2 separate regions of the Homo sapiens genome follow, and region 2 is linked to region 1. Evidence: fine-mapped expression QTL. A gene starts in region 1. The other region holds a variant in brackets. All regions are shown on one strand. Distances are from middle to middle. Region 1 holds the start of LAMP3 (lysosomal associated membrane protein 3). Region 2 overlaps LAMP3 (lysosomal associated membrane protein 3).

Region 1 (4,389 bases):
TGACAGACAATCCAATTAATAGAGGAAGGAGATAAGACATTAAAAGGTTGCCTGTCAGCGTTGTTGAGCCGTGGGCCGTGGCTTACGCCTGTAATCCCAATGGTTGGCTAACGCAGGAGGATCATTTGAGGCCAGGAACTCGAGACCAGCCTGGGCAACACAGCGAGACCTCCTCTCTACATAAAATAAAATAAAATAGCTGGGCGTGGTGGCACGCGCCTTTGGTCCCAGCTACTCAGGAGGCTAAGGTGGGAGACTCACTTGAGGCCAGGAGGTCGAAGTTGCAGTGAGCCGAGATCACGCCACTGCACTCCAGCCTGGGTGATAGAGCGAGACCCTGACTCCAAAAAAAAAAAAAAAACGATATTGTGTGTTTTTTGTTCCAGGATTTTCTGGTCTGTAAAACCACCTGGGGCCAGGCACAGTGGCTCACGCTTGTAATCCCAGATCTTTGGAAGGCCGAGGCGGGCGGATCACCTGGGGTCAGGAGTTTGAGACCAGCTTGGCCAACACGGTGAAACCTGGTCTCTACTAAAAATACAAAAAATTAGCCGGACGTGGTGGCGCACATCTGTAATCCCAGCTACTGTGGAGGCTGAGGCAGGAGAATCGCCTGAACCCAAGTTTGCAGTGAGCCGAGATCACGCCATTGCCCTCCAGCCTGGGCGACAGAGTGAGACCCTGTCTCAAAAACAAAAACAAAAACAAACAAACAAAAACAAAGAAAGAAAAAGAAAAAAGAAAATAAAAAAACACACTGGGAGTGGGCATTATTATGTCCGTTTTACAGCTGAAGAATCCAAGGCTCCTAGAGGTTCCCCGACGCCGCACGCCGGGGAGTCGGCAGCGCGAGCTCCCAGCCAGACCTAGCGCCTCTGGGCTGTGCTCCTGTTGCTTCCCGCAAACCGCGGTCCTGGCGAGGCCTGGGCGTGGAGCGCGGCTGCCGCAGACTCCCTGGGAAGACATGGAGTCAGGGTGCTTAGGGGTTTTTAGGCTCCTGCTCGCCTAGTGGCTGGCTTTCTCCCGGCTGAGAAGCGTCTCTGGGTTCCCAGAAAGGTACCCGAGCTGTTAGAAAAGAGGAGACCCTGGGCCGGGCGCAGTGGCTCACGCCTGTAATCCCAACACTTTGGGAGGCCGAGGCGGGCGGATCACAAGGTCAGGAGATCGAGACCAGCCTGGCCAACAGGGTGAAACCCCGTCTCTACTAAAATACAAAAATTAGCTGGGCGTGGTGGCGGGCGCCTGTAACCCCAGCTACTCGGGAGGCTGCGGCAGGAGAATCGCTTGAACCAGGGCAGTGAGCCGAGATCCCGCCACTGCACTCCAGCCTGGCGACAGAGCGAGACTTTGTCTCAAAAAACAAAACAAAACAAAACAAAACAAAAGAAATAAAAAGAAAAGAAATAAAAGAGGAGACCCTGGCCGGGCTCGGTGGCTCACGTCTATAATCCCAGCACTTTGGGAGGTCGAGGCGGGCGAATCACGAGGTCAGGAGCTCGAGACCAGCCTGGCCAATATGGTGACACCCCGTCTCTACTAAAAATACAAAAATTAGCCGGGTGTGGTGGTGCATGCCTGTAATCCCAGCTACTCGGGAGGCTGAGGCAGAAGAATCGCTTGAACCCGGGAGGCAGAGGTTGTAGTGAGCCGAGATCGCGCCACTGCACTCCACCCTGGGCGACAGAGCGAGACTTCGTCTCAAAAAGAAAAGAAAAAGAAAGGAGGAGACCCAGGGTATGAGCGGAGGAGGCCGGCGCTGCCGGGACCACGCGCGTGCGGTAAACGGTCCCAGAGGCCCGGGCCCCGGCGGCTGCGCCGAGTCCCCGCCCCTCCCTGCTCCGTAGGGGTAGGAGGGGGCCGGCGGAGTTTCCCTCCCCGCCCAGCGGCCCTGGGCGGGCTTTTCGGCTGCTTCTCATAAGCAGGTGGTTTCGTTTCTCCGGCACAGGTAGGTTTCTCTGGCACCGATTCGGGGCCTGCCCGGACTTCGCCGCACGCTGCAGAACCTCGCCCAGCGCCCACCATGCCCCGGCAGCTCAGCGCGGCGGCCGCGCTCTTCGCGTCCCTGGCCGGTGAGTGGCCCTCAGCGCTTCCCGCGGTGGCCCTGACGTGTCGGTCCCCTTTCATCTAAACGCACTCTGGAGTCCCGGGCGCCACAGGACGGGCTGCGGGTAGGGAGGTGTGGCGCGTCCAAGGGCTTCCCAGCTGGAACTTGTTTTCCGTGAGTTACTCAGAGCAGGTGTCAACCCCAAAGACAGTGACACTGTCCCTCGCTTCCAAAAGGGTTCTGGACACCTTCTCAGGGAGAGTTTGTAGAGGTCACTCGGATTTAAGAGATGGAGACCTGAGCTAGGGTTTAGGAATGGGAGTCTTGGCTTTGTTATCCGGGAAAAGCGCTCCTGTCTTGCTTTTCCTTGCATCAGATGTGGTCTGACAGATTGTGCCATTTCAGAAAGGTGTAGGAAGAGTGTCAAAGACTTTTTTTTTTTTAAATGATCATTGTACTTCCCATCCCAGATGCCGTCTGGGACGCTGAGTTTATGATTATTTTATGATCCGACCCTCCGCTTTCTCCAGAGCTTTTCCCCCTAGACATTGAGTCCTCGGGTGCTGTGGTGTTGTCCCTGTGATGAAGTTTCCTGGTTACTCGAACGTCATGAGAGAACTGTCTCCGTCCCTACCGCCCGGCTAACATGCTCAAGCAGGGGGCGCGGTGGCCCTTGCTTGTAACATGAATGCTAGGAATGTTAGGGAAGAGGTGAGAAGGGTCGTGCCAGCTGCCCTTGCCTAGGCAGTTCTCCCCTGCGCCACACTTTCACACTTACAGTTTCAGGTTCTTTTAGGGGACAGAAGAGGAAGTCATCATCACGCTCCACAGGGCAAGCTATTAAAAAAGCAAAACAATCTCAGCCTAGCGGTAACCCACAGTGACCTGTATGTGAGCGCTCCTTGAATGGATGGATAGGCTCAGAAACACAATGGTATTGACAGGCCAGGCGTGGTGGCTCACACCTGCAATCCCAGCACTTTGGGAGGCTGAGGCCGGCGGATCACTTGAGGTCAGGAGTTCGAGACTAGCCTGGCCACCGGTGAAACCCCGCCTCTACTAAAAATACAGAAATTAGCCGGGCATGGTTGTGGGCGCCTGTAATCCCAGGTACTCGGGAGACTGAGGCAGGAGAATCACTTGAACCCAAGAGGCGGAGGTTGCAGTAAGCCAAGATCATGCCACTGCACTCCAACCTAGGTAACAGTGAGACTCTGTCTCAAAAAAAATAAATAAATAAAAATAAAAATACAGTGAGTATTGACAAATGCAAGGGCAAGTGGAGAGAAAATGCCCACATTACCGGTTCCTTTCTGAGCTACAAATTCTCAGAGGTGAGCTAGGTGAAGGATGCATCAGAGGTTTCTTCCTCAGAGGTGGAGGCCTTTGAGGGGTGGCACGGAACTGGATTCAAACCCTTGCCCTGACCCTTCCCAGCAGGGAGGCCTTGTTCACATCACCCAACCTTTCGGGTGCTCAGTTCCCTCACTGAAAAATGGGGAGAATAATATCCTCTGCTAGGAGTACTGGGGAAACAAATGAGGTAGCACCTGGACAGCAATTACTGCAGTGATTTTGCTCAGTGATGTTAACTCGTATCTCCTGTTTGTCCCTCCAGTCCCTCTCCCATTCACCTCACAACCTGACCTTGAGCCCCTTCTTCACTCAGTACAGGGCTCATCAGCACATGGTAATTAACAATGATGGACATGGCTTCCTGGCACTCTCTGCATGCCAGGCACTGTTCGCAGTGCTTTAATCCACAAAACAGCTTTGTAAGTACTGCTATTGTCTCCGTTTTACTTGCGAGGAAATAGAAGCACAAAGAGGTTAAATAACTTGCCCCTGATCACATAGCTAGCTGGTGACAGAGTCGAGCTTTGAACCAGAGTCTGTGCCCATAGCAGCTAACCTATGTGCTTTACTCATACATCTACTTACCTATAACTTATTTAGTCTCATAAGAACCCTGAAAAGTAGGTGCTATTCTTATCCCTATTTTACAGATGGCGGTACTGAGGCAGAGGCAGGTTAAGGAATTGTTCATGGTCTCCCAGTTAGTGAGTAGCATTCCTGAGACTGGCATTCAAGACATCTGGCCTTGGCTGGGCACAGTGACTCACACCTGTAATCCCAGCACTTTGGGATCCTGAGGTGGAAGGTCGCTTGAGGCCAGGAGTTTGAGACCAGCCTGGACAACATAGTGGACTGTGTCTCAAACAAAACAAAACAAAAACGAAGTCTGGCCTTGGGGTTCAGGCTCTACGCTACTGTGCTACATGATCCTGCATGCATAGGCTCAAGAAATCCTTGTTGAATTGGAAATGAGCAAAAATCATCAGAAA
Region 2 (4,389 bases), 31 kb after region 1:
GTCCTTTTCTTTTGCTGTTTATTATGCTGATTTAGGAGCCCCAAGCTATCTGAGCAGCCCCTGTAAGAAACACAGAGTTAGGACTGGGCGTGTTGGCTGACTCCTGTAATCCCAGCACTTTGGGAGGCCAAGGCAGGTGGATCACTTGAGGCCAGGACTATGAGACCAGCCTGGCCAACATAGCAAAACCCCATCTCTACTAAACATACAAAAAACTAGCCCGGCATGGTGGTACATGCCTGTAATCCCAGCTACTCGGGAGGCTGAGGGATAAAAATCACTTGAAATCAGGAGGCGGAGGTTGCAGTGAGCCGAGATTGTGTCACTGCATTCTGGCCTGGGTGACACAGTGAGACTCTGTCTCAAACTATTACTAGAGTTGGAGAATATGGCTCCGGGAATTACTCTAGTTTGAGAGTCAAGACATAACTCTGATCACAACCCTCTAGGCCAAACTAGCATTTTCTCAAAGTTGGATCTGCCTGGAAGCAGCATCAGAATTCCCCTGGCCTCAGCTCAGACCCACTGAATTATCATTTCTTGGGCATGTGTCTGGGCATCTGCAATTTAATAAGCTCCCTAACTAATTACCAGTGCTACACGTGTCAGATCCACTGTATTGACCCTTTCCCTCTCGTTTTCACCCACTGTTGTCTGAGCCCCAACAGCTCCATCTTCCCCTCTGTCTTCTTTTCTCCAAAGCTGAGGCAGATGTGGCAGTGCCACTTCCCAGCATTTGTGGCCAGTCTGTAACACTTGTTACTCTGACTTCAATTACAGCGGATGAATGCTTCAGTGACAGAAACAGGAGAGAAATCCCTGTGGCCATGGGCCTGAGTATCACAGGACTGCTTGTCATTTTGCTAACCGCATGTCTGGTGGCCAGAAAGAGGCCCAGTAGAGGATATGAACGCATGTAAAGCCCCACTTTCTTCAAAATGTGCAAAGTTAAGGTCTTGGGAATTCCAGCATCATATTCAGCCTGAAGTGAAAGGATTGACCTGTCTCGTTGCCTGTTGCACCCTCCTGAGCTGATTAGGAAACCTAACTTTCCACCAAAGGGCTACCGCAGTGCTGGGAAACAGCACCTCCCCTACTTCCTCCTGTTGCTTTGGGGAGGCCATGCCAGGTGTGCTTGATGCCCTCTGCCATACCTGAATATACCAGTGCTGGCTTCCGGAATTAGGGGCAATAGGCAGAGACATGAGTGGGGTGCTTGTGAGAAGGGAGAAAGCGAAAACCCGGAGGGAGAATTGTGGGGAAGACGTTTACAAATTGACTGATTTTTCTTATACATTTTCAAGAGTCCTGATTTTCAGTTTTTAAAAACATTACTTTAAAAAAACCAATGCATTTCAAAGTTGATTACAAAATGATTTTAAACTCCTGGATTTTACCCAAATTTTGTTTACTTAAATTATAGATGATCTTAATATGCTATTATTTTAAAAAAACATATCCTACTCTATTGTAATGTATTATCAGTTTAAAAAATTAGGAAACTGCCTATTTCACTTTTTTAATTTAAAGCACATATCAAAGATCATGGCAAAAAAGGAGGGGCTCAATAAATGTTAGCCCTTCAGTTGCTTCAATTTCATGTGTTGTCTGCCTTCTTAGCTACTTTTTTCCGGGTTTGTCGGCTTTTCTTTGATGTTATTTTATTCTTGTAAATGTGTCCATTTGGACCATTGCAGGACAGGAGGGAGACAGAGCAGGGAGACAATATGGAATGGCAAGCAGGAAGAGGTAGACCTGCCTGGAGGATCACTCACTTCCCTTTTA[C/T]GCAAACATTCACCAAAAGCAGTACATTCCTGATGGGGGACGGTTGATATCTGAGGGAAAAATTCTATTAAAATATGGCTTAGGATGTTATTCATGGTTTCCTATTACATTGATGGGGGTTTTTCATTCAGAGAAAAAGGAGAGGTATGTTCTTAATTGATTCTACTGACTGGAAGTTTTCTTGTTTTTCCAAATTTTCCAGAGGTGCCATTCATTATTTTTAACATGACATTTATGAAATTTGGCAACAACTCTAAAACTACTGCCTACTTAGGAAATGTACTGACTCTCCCAGGAGGCATTTTTGCTCTCCTTGTTTTCTTAGAATTGGGGCTGTGGGGAGGGCACACCGCAGCTTCAAAAGAGCACTAAGAGCCCCTGAAGACATCCAGAGTGTCAGAAAATGTCTGTTTCCCTCTTAAAACAGATGTTGATGACAATCTGATATGAGGACCCGGGAGTTCCCCAAAGAGACTCGGGCTTAACAGCAAGAGCTTGGCTTTGGAGAGCTGTGATCTCCTTCCACCTCCTCCTTCAAACTGGCACCTGCTCCAGGCTCCCCTGTGTCCAGTGTTAAGGGCACTCGAAAGTTCTGTAGGGCAGAGGACAAGGTGTTTATTCACCAGCCACTCACTCTTCTGCAGAATGATTAATGTAAGATTTACCTTCTAGCATGTGGAAATTTCTCCCCTAGCAGATGAAACAAGAAGCAGAATTTAAAATCAAGTATAGAGGGATATGACCACTTAAATTTAATTTTCCTCCCTACCTTCTTCAGTGAGTTCTTTTGGATGATGGCCACTGCTTGGACTCCTGCTATCTATTCCCCCGACCCCAGTACTGATTATTTTTAGAATTAATTTGAATTAGCATTCTGGTAACCACAAAAAGCAAAGGTTTCATTGGAATGGCCAGTAAATAAACGCTTGGATGTGTAATTTACTCACAGTCCTGCCCACTTTCCAGGTGGAGAGCAGAGGGGGCAGTGGAGCTGGGCTCCTCACCTGCCTCCCCTCCTAACCACACACACATTCACCCTAAGAAGCCTGTGATGAGAGGGAAAAAAATTCTGTGAACTCCTCCATTACTAAACCTGGAGGAAAAAAAAAAGAGTGGGTTGCTTTATTTTCTTCGTTTTCCAACCTAGGGTAGTGAAAATGGCTCCCAGGAAGACTGGGAAGAGTAAAGGGAGGGACAGACGGAGGTGAACTGGGGAAGAAACCCCAAAGCAGACGATCGCTCCAGGCTGCAGCTAGTTTCCATGCTACAAAAAAGAGAATAGAATCCAAATATCTAACCCAAAGGGAAACATTAACTGATCTCAGATGCAATGGAAAGAAAGACCATAATTCACCCAAACGGCATCATAGGAAATGGAGTATCTCGACTGCCACGCTCAAGCATGAGCAAGATGAAAACAAACTGCATGGCCACTGTGCCAAAATACTGCAGCAAAATAAGAATAGTTTGAAATTAAATTAAGAAAAGGAGTGAGGCCAGGCACGGTGGCTCACGCCTGTAATCCCAGCACTTTGGGAGGCCGAGGCGGGCGGATCATGAGGTCAGGAGATCGAGACCATCCTAGCTAACATAGTGAAACCCCGTTTCTACTAAAAACACAAAAAATTAGCCAGGCGTGGTGGCAGGCGCATGTAGTCCCAGCTACTCGGGAGGCTGAGGCAGGAGAATGGCGTCAACCCGGGAGGCAGAGCTTGCAGTGAGCCAAGATGGCACCACTGTACTCCAGCCTGGGTGACAGAGCGAAACTCCGTCTCAAAAAAAAAAAAAAAAAAAAAAGGAGTGAGGGTGTATTAGTTTGCTAAGACTGTCTTAGTAACATACCACAGTCTGGATGCCTTAAATAACAGAAATGTATATTCTCACAGTTCTGGAGGCTAGAAATTCAAGGTCAAGGTCTCAGCAGCATTGGTTTTTCTGAAACTTCTCTCCTTGGCTGTAGATGGCCTGTGTCTTCACGTGGTCTTCCCTCTGTACCTGTCTGTATCCATATGTCCTCTTTGTGTAAGGATACCATTCATATTGGATAGAGGCCCACCCTAATGACCTCATTTTAACTTACTGACTTCTTGAAAGACCCTGTGTCCTAATACATGTTCTGTGGTCCTGGAAGTTAGGGCTTCACCATGTAAATTTGGGGGCAGGGAGGGGATACAATTTAGTCCATAACAGAAAGTTAGAAATGAAAATAGTAAAATACAAAGAAAACATAATTCAAGGAACAGAAAGAAATTCCTGACAATTGCTTGATGCTGAGAATCACTTAATGTGAATTCCAGGTAATCAGAGTTTAAAGATAAGATGTTAAAATGAAAGAGTAAGAAAACAAGATGAGTGTCAAAGCAATACACTGCATAATGTATAGAAACAGTCAGAGGCAGAATAAATAGGGAGGAAATTATATTATTTTCATAGAGAGAATGACTGAGATCATTACAGGTAATACAGATAAACCTTATGATTAAAGCATTACAGGGAAGCTACTAGATATAGAAGCTATTCAGCCCATCCAACATAAGTATAATTGGTGCCTCTGACGTATAGACCTCAAAAATAGAATGAAGATATATTTGAAGATTTAAGGAA

What was found. PIP is the estimated chance that this variant, and not a neighbour inherited with it, causes the effect. A credible set is the group of variants that fine-mapping cannot tell apart.
Region 2: its variant is the best candidate, but not a certain one, in a credible set for the expression of LAMP3 in fibroblasts (GTEx, PIP 0.73).

The regions. Positions count from the first base shown.
Region 1 is chr3:183,160,287-183,164,675 of GRCh38, reverse strand. It overlaps LAMP3 (lysosomal associated membrane protein 3), which reads left to right and starts at 1,942. Exons shown (of 6, transcript NM_014398.4): 1 at 1,942-2,069. The coding sequence starts at 2,021. RefSeq lists a silencer at 1,732-1,941 and an enhancer at 2,554-2,763.
Region 2 is chr3:183,129,348-183,133,736 of GRCh38, reverse strand. The region is part of intron 5 of LAMP3 (lysosomal associated membrane protein 3); the gene reads left to right. Among named protein-coding and RNA genes, the nearest start is that of LAMP3, 31 kb to the left of the region's middle. The variant C/T (reference allele first, on the strand shown) is at 1,786.